Linked DNA regions of Homo sapiens. The protein of the gene in region 1 interacts with the protein of each later gene in a pairwise test. Each region holds a gene or a part of one and is shown on either strand. Other genes may lie near its edges.

What was found.
Region 2: the proteins of WWC2 (region 1) and REPS1 interact in a two-hybrid assay, tested with the Homo sapiens proteins (one large-scale study listed by BioGRID and IntAct).

Annotation. Positions count from the first base shown.
Region 1 is NC_000004.12:183,256,087-183,259,913, forward strand, and holds part of WWC2 (protein WWC2), read left to right. Parts: intron 1-3,552; coding exon 3,553-3,642; intron 3,643-3,827. UniProt on the Homo sapiens protein: Regulator of the Hippo signaling pathway, also known as the Salvador-Warts-Hippo (SWH) pathway.
Region 2 is NC_000006.12:138,905,501-138,908,457, forward strand, and holds part of REPS1 (ralBP1-associated Eps domain-containing protein 1), read right to left. Parts: intron 2,101-2,957; coding exon 1,995-2,100; intron 1-1,994. UniProt on the Homo sapiens protein: May coordinate the cellular actions of activated EGF receptors and Ral-GTPases.

The DNA.
Region 1 (3,827 bases):
CATGTATTTTATATATGTAGTATGTTGACTTTCTGAGTTACCTGGAAGAGCCAGGTCATTTAGTATTCCAAATAAGTGGATACTAGTTTCCTTATCAGTGTCTATGGCCAAAGGCAAATCCTCATACTTACATTGCCATCAAAGGTTGAAGGACTCAGACATTCTTGCTTGATCAGCTTAAAGCTTTCTAACTCCTATCCTGGGATGCTCAAAGTGACTCAGTAGTTCACATGTCCAGAAGAGCAGAACCTGCTGCCATTGGGAACACTGAATCCTTTCTTTCCCAAGTAGATACAACCTCGTCTGGCTTTGGGTTTTGCTGTTGCTATTATGGTTTTGCTTTCTATTCCCCCATGCTCTGGCATTTTTTCTTATGGCTTCACCCTTTCGTGTCTTCCTCCTGTGTGTGTGGGTTTCTGCTCTGCTCATTGCTGCTGTTGCACTGACGCCGGGAGTTTAAGAGGGAAGAGAACGCCCTTGCCAGCAGTGTCTCCTCAGTGTCAAAGCAGGGCTGGCTGGAGCTTCTTTTGGGAAGTAGGATTTGCTGTGTGAAACTCAGTTTCATCATAGAACAGATTGTGTGCCACCAACCCCAAATCCTTCCTTTTCTTCTTGGTACCTACATGACTGTCAAAGCTACCTGCCGTATTCCCCAACATATTCCTGTTTTCCACTTATATTTGGGGTTCCCATTATTTCAGGGGTGACCTCTGGCAAGATTCCGAGTCATTGCTGAACGTTGGTGTCTGAAGGAGCTAGATGCACATGAATTTTCAGTCTCTGAGTGTGATCCTACAGCCCCCCCCCCCCCCCCCCCGGCTCTGTTCCTGCCCCCACAGGGCTGCAGTGTCGCCCACTGGGCCTGATGGCAGCGACTGTGCTCGCCACCTGGTGGTGGGAAAGAGGTGCTCATGGTGAAGCATTGCCAGGCCTAAAGAGAAATTGCTCGCAAATGAAAAAAACCATGCAGGGAAGGTGTTTCTATGCATCTTTCGTATTCTTCCCATGCAGTTATTGAAATTCCTTAAACTCTGTGCTTTCCTATAGCTGGTAAGATCTTAACATTGCTCCTTGTTTTATCACAAGTGTTGGGGGTTTGCCTTGTAATTGCCAAGACGTCTTAATTGTTTCTTAATTATTTGAATGTTTTTGCCACTGCTTCTGAAAAATTTTTTAAAGCAAATAGGTGGGGGCATGAGTGTCACTTAGTTTTGAGTGGAAAAGGGACTTCCTGCTTCTATAGATGACATGAAATTTTCCCTAGGTGCAGAATTCTGAGTTCAGGAGAAACCAGGCTGTGCTTCTCTCCTGCAGGGCACTGAGGGCAGAGTCAGGCAGGTGTGAAGGCCCACACTTCACAAAGGGCAGCTTGAAAGGGGATGTGGAGCAGATGGGCCAGGGGGAGGAATCTTTTAAGGGCCAAGTAGAGGAAACCCTTTCTCATCCAGCAGACCAACAGGCAGGAGTTGGAGAAGAACCTAGAGAGACAGGTGTGCACCCTTTTGAGAGGGCTGATGTCTGCAATTTCTTCTAACCCCTGGTTATGGGGAAGTTGGGGAGAGCATTTCACATGAAATACACGTGGATTCTGAGGAAGACTTCAGGCTTTCGCTAGGAGAGGCTTTGGTGATAACATCAGAGACAAACTGCGGCCCACTAGGAGGGTTTCTGTGCCTCTCCCCAGTGCCTTCCTCATGCTTCTCCCAGGGAAGGTTTCATCTCAACACCAGCAAGAACGGAGGGACTGGCCAGGGCACCCTGTGCTGCAGGGAGAAAGGGCTGATGTCTGCATTCTGGGATTGTAGGAGCTAAGTGGGAAACGTGAACAAGAACACAAAGACAGGCATCTGTGGTTCAAAGCAGACATTAAAGGGCTGGAAGAGCAGCTGCCGAGCATCACCTGGAGAAGGCTGAGGACGCTCCCTAGTGATGGAGAAGGGACAGCACTGAAAGTGTGGCTCAGGGTCACATTCTGACGTCATCCTGGTGCCTCCTGAAAGCATTAGAAAAAGGCTTCATTTTAATAAAAGCAATATTGAGTTTTAAAACTTCCTTCCGAAGTGTTTCTCTTGTTTCAGAAGACATGGATTTTAGTAGAGTTTGGGGCTTTCTTCAGACCTTTGTGCACTTTTAATTCAGTTAGTCTACTTCATATTACTTTTTTCCTCGTTGAGTTTTTATTTATATTTGAAAGATTTTTAAAATGACCGCTGCTTTTAAAAATACACCTTTGAAAGCCATGAATTAAGAATTTATCGCGCTTTTGAAGTATTAAAGAAAATGGCAAGAATTACTTTTTTTAGTTTAACATATAATGGAATAGTGTTGTTGACACATCAAAGGGATAGATACCTATAAATAAAATATGGGCATGTTTCCTTACTGCCAAAAACATATATAACATTTCAAAGAGATTAGAAATTAAGGAAATTTTATTTTTCTCCAAAGAAAAGTGGCTAGTTTTTATATCACCACTTTTCAGGGCATGCTGAGGCTTTGAACAAGTCAGATTTGTTTTTCTTCTCTGTCAAGCACTTTCTCATACATTACTCCATTGATCCCTTTAACAGCCTTACCAGGGAGACACAGGGGAATTATAGTCACCATTTTACAGATGAGAAAAGTAAGACCCTTGATTCAGCGACTTACCAAGGATATGCAGCTAGTAAGCTGCAAATCAAGATTAGAAACCCAGGTGCCCTTTTTCTGAATTCCATTCTGCTGCTTACTGCTCTGAACTACTTTATTTCATGATGTCTAAAGACCTTCACACGACATAGACTATACTTGCACAGACTCTTAGTTGCATAAACCCCTGGGTACTTGGTATATTTTAAAATGACTTACTATTCAAGTATACAGTTCTATAATGCTGTACTCTTAAAAAAAAGAAAAACTTTTGCAGTTGAATGTGGATGAAATTTTATGATAGTCCGACGCGGATGATGAGATGTGCTGTAGCTCGGAAGGGGAATCACTTTTAGGTCATCCTCTTCCCTAAACAGTTGAGCCCAAATTAGCCCACAATGGTATTGTGGACTAAAATTGTTTCTTAATTGCTAATTCTTATCAAATCAGGGTTGGGAATGTTATCACTAAATACTATGTTGGAACAAGCGTTACTAAATTCGGTATTTAGGGTGACCTTTACTGTTGCTGTGAAATGTTTTAGGAAAGGGTTCCCAGGTCACAGATCTGTGTCAGGATTCTAGTCTTTGGTTAGTTTTTTGTTTCCTTGGTTATTTTCCTCCTCACTCTTCTTCCCCAACTCAAAGGACCATATTACTTACCCATTTAAAAAGATTCTAGGCTACCAGCAATTTTAAATTCTCAGTGACATGGTGATGGGGCATAACGCTCCCTCCCCATCCTTCAGCTTGGCTCGTGCAGCTCTGCCCCCCACACTTCTTGCCGGTGTCCTGTTTTCTGTCTGTGGAGCCCATTCACATTTTTCCCTTGTGATCTGTAATGTTTGTACAATGAGAATCTTTCTTTCCTTTTAGTTTTCATATTTTGTTATAATCATTTGAAAATAATTTTTTTTCTTCCTAGATTGAGATTGGAAGAGAGAAGAAAAGAGCTGCTACAGAAACTTGAAGAAACTACTAAATTAACTACTTATTTGCATTCACAACTTAAAAGGTGAGCTTATCAGATTTTTGAGGGGAAAGCTTTTCTCCGAATAGCATGTTCTTGTTCATCTTTGATTACTTTTCACTTTATTTCCAACTACTTTAAATAAAATCATTATAGTAGCACAGTTACTGTTTGAGTGATCAGATTTAAAGTCACATTTTCTTTTGCATGAACCCAGTGTCATATTTGGA
Region 2 (2,957 bases), on another chromosome or scaffold:
CAGGATGGTCTCGATCTCCTGACCTCATGATCCACCCGCCTCGGCCTCCCAAAGTGCTGGGATTACAGGCGTGAGCCACCGCGCCCGGCTGAAATGTAGTCTCTTTATATGTTTAATATTAAAATAAGATCCTAGTAATTTCAAACATTTTCTTATTACACAAATCAGGGAAATAGAATGTCTAGTTTTTAGAAAAGTCACTGTTTGCAACAATGGGTATTAACACCTGAATTTTGCAATAAACCCGCCCCCTGGTAGATGAATTTGTTAATGTAGCTTCTTTTCCCTAGTGATGACATCTGGCTATATCAACTCCTAGATCTCATTTTGAGCTTTAGTTTCCCAAAGAATAACTTTGCATTCAGAATTTTTAATCAATGTTGATTTTAGGCAGTCTTTTCAGTTAGCCACCATATTCTAACTTACTTACTTTCCTATTTTTCTCTTTCAAATTGACAGTATTGTGTTTTAACCAGAACTACCTCTATTTTGTACCTTACTTCCCATTTTCTGTTCTCAGAAGTAAGGAAAAAAGTAATTTTTCAAAATAGCTTCTATATACTTGTTTCAATGGTCTTCCCTGGTTCAGAAAAACATGCATTAACAAAATTTTCATCTTCATGGTATTATACTACTAAGCTTGTCTTTAAGTTCATTCTTCCTGTACGATGGACTAAATTAATAATCATATAACTACAAATGTCTTCTCCTCTGATCATAGAGTTATACAACAATATCATTCATTCAGTAGATGTTTATCAAATGCCTAAAATATGATCTAGGTTTTGGGGATAGACACAAAGTGGCCATAAGTTTATATCATTCATTCAACAGACATTAAAAAATGCCTAACATACTAGGTTTCGAGGAGAGGGACAAGACGGTCATAAGTTTATCTAGGACAATCCCAGTTTATACCCAGTGTCTTGGCCTAAATGATAGTAATACCACCCTCTTTTTTTCCTCTCAAAAGTGTCTCGATTTGGATGGTATATTACGTGGTCTTCCTAAACAGAAATGATTATGATTTACCCTCAATGAGTTCACTGTAGTAGGACAGAGAGACAAATGTGTCACAGATAATAATTCCAGGACAGTGTAATAAATGCTAAATGAGGAGCATGAACAGAATGTTAGGAGAATGAACTAACTGCATTCATTTTTCATTTCCATGGACTCTCATCTCATCTTTGTTCTATTCCAAGTGGGGCCAACAGTGCTCCAGCATCTCCACTGCCTGGAAGCTTAGGAGAAATGCAGAATTCCCAGGTCCCACCTTAGCTCTACAAAAACCAGAATCTTCATTTTAACATGACCCAAGATTACCTGTATATGCCTTAAGGTTTGAGAACCACTGGTTTGTAAGACATGAGTACCTAATAATGTTGGGGAACCATAAGCAATTCTGGGAGTAATTTTTTTTTTTGACTCAATAAAGAAGGAGTAAGTAAGAGTAATTTTTATTTCTAGGGATGCAAAGAAATTATAGTTACTAGAAAACAAACACATTCCTCTCAGGTATTAGGTGACAGTATACACACTGCATAAGCAGCATTTCTATTTAAGGCTTGCCTTTTCTCTTTCCACATGCAAGATGACTGAAATTGCTGCCACTTCTCTTCTTCTTTAGACCTGTTTAAGTCCCTTTAATGGAATCTGAGTTGTCTTTGATAAAAGGACAAACTAGGACCTGGGTGCAGTGGCTCACGCCTGTAATCCCAGCTACTCAGGAGGCTGAAGTGGGAGGATAGCTTGAGCCCAGGTTGCCAGGGTGATAGAGCGAGATCGTGTCTCTTTAAAAAAAAAAAAAAAAGTGTGTGTGTGTGTGTGTGTGTGTGTGGCGGGGAGGGGTTAACTAACCACAGTCAAAGCATCTAGAAAATTAGAGAAGAGAACCATATATGTGATCTTGGAGGTATCTGAGGTCACATTCCTTCTCTTTAGGTTTCTTTACTAAGATAAGGAACATTATAAAGATTCAGAAACTATATTACCTTTAATTGTTGCTGCAATTCGCTATTCAATCTGGCCAAAACGGTGTTGGTTTCCTTATTACGTCTAATTGATGCCTGAATAGCTTTCTTATCTTTCCCAACAGATCTGAGAAGATAAAGAAGGCAAAAAAACCCATAACCTTCATTTCTTATCTTAAATCCTCTCTATTCCTTCCTGATCTATTTCTAAACATGAGAAGCAAAAAGAGCATCTTTTTCCTTACTAGCACAGCTCAACCTCACTTGCTCAGTTGCAGTAGTATATAAGCTTCAGCACTATAGGAAAGGTTAAAAAAAAAAAAAGAAATTATTAAAAAAATTCTTCTTCTGTAGAATCACCTGAATTTAAGTAAAAGAGTCTAAAGTAGGTACTGGCAAACCTTTTCTGTAAAAAACCAGATAGTAAATAATTTCAGGCTTTGTGGGCCAAAGAGTTTCTGTCTCATATTCTAGTTTTTTGTTTTCTTTTCTCTTCTATTTTTTCTTCTCTCTTCTACAAAAAAGAAAAAGTCATTCTTAGCTCATGGGCTATACAAAAACAGGCCATAGGCTGAATTTGGCCCATTAAGACTTAATCTGCTGATTCCTGGTCTAGAACACCATAATTAAAATACCAGTTTTACTATAAACTATCAAGTTTAAAAAATGTACTGCTACGGGGTTTGAAAACAGGGTGTTAAAATGGCATTGAATTCAACTTAATAAAGGGGGAAACATGGGAAGAATACCTACCCGTACATGAGGAGGCTCTGCTCAATTAAAGAACTAGTCTGACCATAATTTACTTCAGTCTGATTATTGTTATTATTATTATTTGTGAGATGAAGTCTTGCTCTGTTGCCCAGGCTGGAGTGCAGTGGTGCCACCTCGGCTCACTGCAACCTCCGCCTCCTGGGTTCAAGCAATTCTCCTACCTCAGCTTCCCGAGTAGCTGGGACTACAGGTGTGTACCACCACACCCGG